2 linked regions of the Homo sapiens genome follow. The protein of the gene in region 1 purifies or fractionates together with the protein of each later gene. This does not show direct contact. Each region holds a gene or a part of one and is shown on either strand. Other genes may lie near its edges.

What was found. The genes of interacting proteins can lie anywhere in the genome.
Region 2: the proteins of FAM219A (region 1) and SHPK purify together in Homo sapiens (affinity purification with mass spectrometry; 2 studies listed by BioGRID and IntAct, with this or other methods). This does not show direct contact.

What each region holds. Positions count from the first base shown.
Region 1 is NC_000009.12:34,448,254-34,452,321, forward strand, and holds part of FAM219A (protein FAM219A), read right to left. Parts: intron 1-4,068.
Region 2 is NC_000017.11:3,629,353-3,633,384, forward strand, and holds part of SHPK (sedoheptulokinase), read right to left. Parts: intron 995-4,032; coding exon 853-994; intron 1-852. UniProt on the Homo sapiens protein: Acts as a modulator of macrophage activation through control of glucose metabolism.

The DNA.
Region 1 (4,068 bases):
GAGTTCCCCTTTCCTGTGTTCTTTGCCCAAGATAACTATGATGATTCAGGGCCGCTGGGATGGCAACCAGAATACTAGAACTGTTGTTCCCCCTGCTGAAGACCATAGCAGACATGGAAAATCAACCAAACCATGTCAGTCTTTCATATGGAACCAGGAGTCCACCTTAGCATCCATCTTAACACAATGCTCCAGGCAGCAACTACTGATCAAGGGGCATTGGCATGAAGGGTAATGCCTGTTTATCATCCATGCTTTATGTAGCCTGTGGAGTAGGAGGGTATAAAATAATTATGCAGGAATGTTTCTTGAGCTGTTGTGAACAGTGAGAACATTTATTGATACTGCAGAGGAAGTACTGAAACATCCCCTAATCGGGGAATCCACTTTTCACCTTAAATCTCAATTGAGATGGGATTCTTCCTGATAAAAGATTTGGATTATCTTTATCTTCTCTACTGCTTGGCAGAACATAAAAGCATAGAGCACAGCCCAAGGTAAAAATGAGAAATAGAACTAGGCCATGGTGGGAGCTAAGCTATGAGGACACAAAGGCATAAGAATGATATAATGGACTCTGGGGACTCACAGGGGAAGGGTGGGAGAAGGATGAGGGATAAAAGACTACATGTTGGGTACATTGTACACTGTTTGGGTGACAGGTGCACCAAAATCTCAGAAATTACTACCAAAGAACTTATCCACATAACCAAAAACCACCTGTTCCCCAAAAACTATCGGAAAAAAAAAAAAAACCTCAGCCATGGGATAGCCACACTGGTTTAAAAGTAAAGTACTAGCTGGGTGCAGTGGCTCACACCTGTAATCTTAGCACTTTGGGAGGACATGGCAGGTGGATCTCTTGAGCCCAGGAATTTGAGACCAACCTGGGCAACATGGCGAAACCCCATCTCTACCAGAAAAAAACAAAAATTAGCTGGGCATGGTGGTGCACACCTGTAGTCCTAGTTACTTGGGAGGCTGAGGTGGGAGGATCACCTGAGCTGGGGAAGGTCAAGGCTGTAGGAGACAGAGTGAAACTGTGTCTCAAAAAACAGTAAAGTACTAAATGGCTAGTGTATACAATATATAAATTATATCTCAATAAAGTTGTCCAAAAAAAATAAGGATCAAACCAGCATTTGGTAGAGGGACATAAGGGAAATAAAACTCCCTTAGAAATATTATGAGAAAAACAAGGCACTTGGTATTTGCCTGTGCACCTAACCAAAGTTCACCAAGAGCTTCCTACTAATAGCAAGTTCAGACCCTGAAACAAATCAGCAACATCCCATTAGACACTAACTAGCATAGGGCAAAATGGTGTGGGTTATAAAAGACATTTAAAAGAACTAGGAAGACTATAAATCTAGACTGGATCAGCACAGATACTAATTTCTAAGCTAAAGTTTTCCAAAGAGTATTTCCCATGAAACACATTGGTTCTGTAAGATGTTAACAGATGTAACATGAAAAAAGGTTCTATAGTTAAATAAGCTTGGGAAACACTGAATTAAACAAAGTTGAAAAGGTTCCTTTACTGCAGGATATCTCAGAGTCTTTAAAACGTCAGTGGGCATTGTGATGGGATAGAGCATATAGTCTTTCCCAAAGAAATTTTTCTACGGAGACTTTTTCCCTCATGAAGCATCCCAAAGGATCAATATTCCTAACAGAATACTATAGGAAATGCTGGTCTAAACCGTGCATGGTGCGTGGCCAAGGGCTTCACCAATTCCTTCATAAGGATAAAATGGGAAATTAATATGGGAACTAGGTCGGGCGTGGTGGCTTACACCTGTAATCCCAGCACTTTGGGAGGCCAAGGTGAATAGATCGCTTGAGCTCAGGAGTTTGAGACCAGTCTAGGCAACATGGCGAAACCCCTTCTCTACAAAAAATACAAAAAATTAGCTGGGTATGGTGGCGCGTGAATGTAGTCCCAGCTACTCAGGAGGCTGAGGCAGGAGGATCGCTTGAGCCTGGGAGGCGGAGTTTGCAGTGAGCCAAGATTAAGCCACTGTACTCCAGCCTCGGTGACAGAGACCCTGTCTCAAAAAAAAAAAAAAAGTGGGGGGAACTATAATTTATACCTTGTACATAATTATGTTTATGTGGTGAAATATATGTGGTTCTCACTCCACAGTTTGCATGTAGTTAATTCAATACATCTTTTTTTTTTTTGAGACGGAGTCTTGCTCTGTCACCCAGGATAGAGTGCAGTGGCACAATCTCAGCTCACTGCAACCTCCACCTCCTGGGTTCAAGCAATTTTCTGCCTCAGCCTCCCGAGTAGCTGGGATTACAGGTGGCCACCACCATGCCCGGCTAATTTTTGTATTTTTAGTAGGGACGGGATTTCAACATCTTGGCCAGGCTGTTCTTGAACTCCCGACCTGGTTATCCACCGCCTCGGCCTCCCAAAGTGCTGGGATTGCAGGCGTGAGCCACTGCGCCCGGCCAATTCAATAAACCTTAAAATGCTCCTTCAGGTATTGTTCTCGATAGATGGGATGTACTCTGCTTATAACAGCCAAGAATCTGATGGCTAAATCAGGCAAAACCAGGCAAGGAGCCACAGTCACTGGTCTTGTTTCTGCCTGGGTGTGGCCTCTTGTCATATGTTTAGACTTAGGGCTGGAACGGTCATTCAGAAAACACCATTCATAGCTGTATGTCCCCTCTTGCATGCACACTCACATACCTCACCGCCATCACAGAAACTTAAAATTGACCTTCAATAACCAAACCATCCGATCCTCAATTTGCTATCTCTGAATAACAATAATAACAACAAATACAAGTACAGATTTGCTTGAACTCTCTCCTGAGAATGTAAAGCCTAGGAGGAAACTCCTGCGGGCATGTGTCTACCCTCTCTCCCAGGCCAGATGCTACAGGCCTCTTTCCTAGATGACTTCCCTACTCCAGAGTCCCTCCCTGCAGCCAGAAGTTGATTTGGCTGTCCCACAGTGAGGCCTGTGGATCATGTGCCAATTTCTAAACTCCAGAGCAGACTCAAATCCAGAGCTGGTTCCCCTCCTTCCTTCCTTCCTTTCTCCTGCCCAGAAAGCCAGATTCCCATCAGAGCCTATTTAAGAAACAATGACTTGGGACCCTGCTGAGCCACACCTCTAGCTTCCTTCAACCAGCACCTCTGGTTATCTGCCTCAGCCCAATTCTCCCCTTTCCACACGCTCTGGAGCTCCCTGAACCAGTTCTCCCAGGTCTCTAGGAAGGCACGAAGCAGCTAAGCCCAAGAAGCTAAATTTCCCATGTTCCCTTTCCAGACACGAGGCTCCACCTGCCTTTTTAAGGAGGTGAGAGGGTCCCTGAGACTAATCAGGTTTGAGTGAAGAAGCCTGTTTTCCATTTCTGCTCACTCTGGGCTATATAGGCAGTCAAGGGCAGCAGGCAGCTGGGGCTGGGAATGACTCAGCCTGAACCCCAGCTACCACAGAAGCACCTACCCACAGAGGCCACACTGGGACCTCTGAGAAGCCAAGTGACCTCTGAGTGATCTCACCCCAGAATTCTGCTCCTTTGGTACACCTTGCCTGGAAGAAACGGTTGGGCTCTGCTTCCACCCAACTGCAGCTTTTCAGGCTGGTCTCAGAAAAGGAAAGTACGTGTCCTTTTCCATTTTGACATCTTGCAGTGATGTAGTAATACATATATACATTCCAGAAGGAATCAGTGAAAGAGCCCAGCTCAATCAGTCAGAAAAAAACCCATAGATTTGACTAGAACGATGGTAAAAGGCAAAGCCAGAAACTGCAACATAAAGCACTCAGACAACAAAGGATTTTATTTTTTATTCATCAAAGTGCTACTGGAAAGAAAATAACAACAACAAAACCCACTATGGCTCCTTGCTGCTACCACCAATTCTCTTGAATTCATCAAAGCAGGTTGCAGGGGAGAAGTATTCACTGGCAGATGAGCGTGTTTCTCAGCAGCCCTTTTGAGGCAGAGGGGGGACAAATGCCACTCTGACCTTTGGTTTTCTAGGACTTGTGGATTCCTCACAACCCCAAGAATGTAGCTTCAGCAGTAGAGCAAAGGAAA
Region 2 (4,032 bases), on another chromosome or scaffold:
AAATAGAACAGGTTACCCACCTCCGCACTGTGGCAGATCTTCATAAGACAACCAACTAGAAATGCTTAGCAACTGAACCCATAAAAAGGATATGCCGGCCGGGCATGGTGGCTCACACCTGTAATCCCAGCACTTTGGGAGGCTGCCGGTGGATCATTTGAGGTCAGGAGTTCGAGACCAGCCTGGCCAACATGGTGAAACCCCGTCTCTACTAAAAATACAAAAATTAGCTGGGCGTGGTGGCAGGCACCTGTAGTCCCAGCTACTCTGGAGGCTGAGGCAGGAAGACCACTTGAACTCGGGAGGCAGAGGTTGCAGTGAGCTGAGTTTGCGCCACTGCACTCCAGCCTGGGTAACAAGAGTGAAACTCCACCTTAAAAAAAAAAAAAAAAAAAGATATGCCCTGGAATTTTCAAAATCACAAATATGTAAACAACGACAAATGTGCCCCAATTCAAAAGCATGCCCTCCATGTCCTGGCATCTCCTGCAGCTATAGCCAGTCTCTCGGTTGTCTGCACTAATGTTCTGAGATACTGACATGGTAAAGAGAAAGCTATGGAAAATGCACTCTGCTGAATCCTTCAGGAGAATCCGAGAAAACACTCTCTTCCCTCTGCCTGTTCGTGGATAACGTGCTGATGATGTGGGAGTGGGCAGTTCCTTTGTTCACCTAACATTGGTACAGAATGCTCACCCACGCAGGAGGCAGCACGTATTCGTCCACTCCAAGAAACAAGACCCTATTCCCACTGCAGGATAACCCGACCCTTCACAGAAAGCCCCGCACAGCACTGCTCTAGTTCTGGAAGTGACTGCTACCAGCCTGAGAGCATCCCCGAGCCCAGCATACCTTGGCCTGTTTTCCAAAACACGACTCCATGCATCTGGCCCGACACCCCGATGCCCACGACGCTCCGGAGCTGGGGTCGGGGAAGGGCAGCAAGGCACTCGTGTAGGGCTTGGAGGATTCTACTCACATCCTGCTCCCGCCCCTGGAAGCAAAAGAGAACACATGGGCAGGGGCAGACACACAGGCAGGGGGAGGGGCGCAGGCCTCCCGGGATGTCCTGGAGGAGGAATGCAGTGGGCAGCATCCACTCCCTAACTTCACAGTTGAGGCACTGCTGCAGGTGAGTTGCAGCAAACTGCCTGGGCCTGCCCTCCACTGGGGTCAGACTCAGCTGAGAACAGCATTCTCTGTGCTATAAATAGAAGAAATAAGGCCAGGCACTGGTGGCTCAAGCCTATAATCCCAGCACTTTGGGAGGCCAAGGTGGGTGGATCACCTGAGGTCAGGAGTTCGAGACCAGCCTAGCCAAACAACATGATGAAACCCCGTCTCTACTAAAAATACAAAAAATTAGCCGGGTATGGTGGCATGCACCTGTAATCCCAGCTACTCAGGAGGCTGAGGCAGGAGAATCGGTTGAATCTGGGAGGCGGAGGTTGCGGTGAGCCGAGATCACGCCACGGCACTCCAGCCTGGGTGACAAAGTGAGACTCCATCTCAAAAAAACCAACTAGAGGAATCCACAGAAAGTTCAGAAGAGAAGAAGGGGAAGAGAATTGTGGCTCAGCTCTCAATAAATGTCAGCTCTTTGAGGAACTAGCAAAGCTAAGGTCTTAGAAAGGCATCTGAAGGCTGAGTTCTCAGACGTCTTGCTTCCCTCCCGGGAGTGCTGTCTTCCCCTCCTCGGAAAACCTCTCGCTTGCCCCTGTCAGCCTGCGGCCTTGGTCAGGGGCAGCTCTTGGCTCCTAACAAGCAGGAACAAAGAAGAGAAAGAAGGGAGGAGAGGAGGGGTAGGATGGGGCAGGGAGTACAGGGGAAGCACAGCCTTTTCCTAGGAAGCAGCCCCAGAGCTCAACAAGGATTCTACATGCAAGAGAGGCCACAGCCAAGAGGAAGTGGAAGACAAGAGGCACAGAGGAGCCAGGTGGCTATGCAGGATCACCAGAGGGAGGAAAGAAGAGCAGGGTGGGGACATGGGGGTGGGGGGCAGGAAGAAGGGTTCTGGGAATAGACATTTGTTTAGACCCTCACTGTCCAATACTGAAATCGTTAGCCACTTGTGGCTAGTCTGAATTGACATGTAAATGTAAAACATGCACCGGACTACAATTTAGTATGACAAAAAATATACACTATCTAATTTAATGCTTTTTTTTTTTTTTTTTTTTTTTTTTTAGCGATAGAGTCTCTCTCTATTGCTCAGGCTAGAGTGCAGTGGCATAATCTTGGCTCACTGCAACCTCTGCCTCCCAGGTTCAAGTGATTCTCCTGCCTTAGCCTCCGGAGTAGCTGGGATTACAGGCTCACACCACCACGCCGGGCTAATTTTTGTATTTTTAGTAGAGACGGGGTTTCGCCACGTTGGCCAGGCTGGTCTCAAACTCCTGGCCTCAGGGATTCACCCACCTCGGCCTCCCAAAGTGCTGGGATTACAGGTGTGAGCCACCGCACCCAGCCTTGATTATCACACATCAAACTGATAATGTGCTGGATACACTGGGTTAAATAAAATATGCAATTAAAATTAATTTCACTTGTTTATTTTAATAGGGCTGCTAGAAAATTGAAAAGGCCACGCCTGGCTCCATTTGTAGGTTACATTTCTTTTTTTTTGAGACGGAATCTCACTGTCACCAGGTTGGAGTGCAGTGGTGTGATCTCAGCTCACTGCATCGTCTGCCTCCCAGGTTCATGCGAGTCTCCTGCCTCAGCCTCCCAAGTACCTGGGACTATAGGTGCGCGCCACCACACCCGGCTAATTTTTGTATTTTTAGTAGAGACGGGGTTTCACCATGTTGGCCAGGATGGTCTCGATCTCTTGACCTCGTGATTCGCCCGCCTCGGCCTCCCAAAGTGCTGGCATTACAGGCGTGAGCCACCGCGCCTGGCCTGCAGGTCATATTTCTACTGGACAGAGCTAGTTTAAAGAGTCCTCCCAGCTGGGCGCAGCGGCTCACGCCTATAATCGCAGCCACTGGGAAGGTTGAAGCAGGAGATCACTTGATCCCAGAACTTTGAGACCAGCCTGAGACCAGCCTCAGCAACACAGTAAGACTCCACATGGCCATGGGGTGGTGTGTCATCCCAGGACAGAGCTGCTGTTTCAAATGGTCCCAGGGTGAGTGGGTGCGTGAGTTGTGTGGGGGGAGACACGGGAAGAAGTAAGCAGGCTGGATGTGGTAAAGACAAGGAGGCAGTGTTCAGCAGTTAGAAACAGTTTTAGGGGCGGGTGTGATTGGGGAGTAGCTCTTGGACAGACCCCCAGTGTAACAGGAATAGACATTGCCCCCACTCCTTGGCTCAGAATATCAGTTGGTCTACATCCACGTCGAATCCTCGCGCTTTAGACTTGCACACAGTACTTAGAAGCTCATTAAATCCTACTCCTCAGGCCTCTTTTTACAGCGGAGGAAACTGATGCCCAGAGAGGAAAAATAAATATAAACTGTGAAAGGGTCACAGAACTGCCCTCGAAAACCTTGTATTTTAAATGGGCAAATACCAAAAACTGATTGTCTGCACAGCTGCCAAGCTTGACCCTGGTATAGCTAATACTTATGAGTGAAAAGTATGAACTTGAGGAAAGAACACAGCCAGCAGATATTACTTTTTTTTTTTTTTTTTTTTTTTTGGAGACAGAGTCTTACTCTGTTGCCCAGGCTGGAGTGCAGTGGTATGATCTGGGCTCACTGCAACCTCTGCCTCCCGAGTTCAAGCAATTCTCCTGCCTCAGCCTCCCAAGTAGCTGGGATTACAAGCACGCATCACCACGCCCGGCTAATTTTTGTTATTTTGTAGTAGAGACAGGGTTTCACCATGTTGGCCAGGCTGGTCTCGAACTCCTGACCTCAAGTGATCCACCCACCTCCGCCTCCCAAAGTGCTGGGATTACAGGCAAGAGCCACCGCGCCCGGCCACAGATATGACTATAGATCACTGGTTCCTACTCGGGGTGGTCTTGTCACCTAGGGAACATTTGGCAACATGGAGACATTTTTGGTTGTCACATCTGGGGAAGAG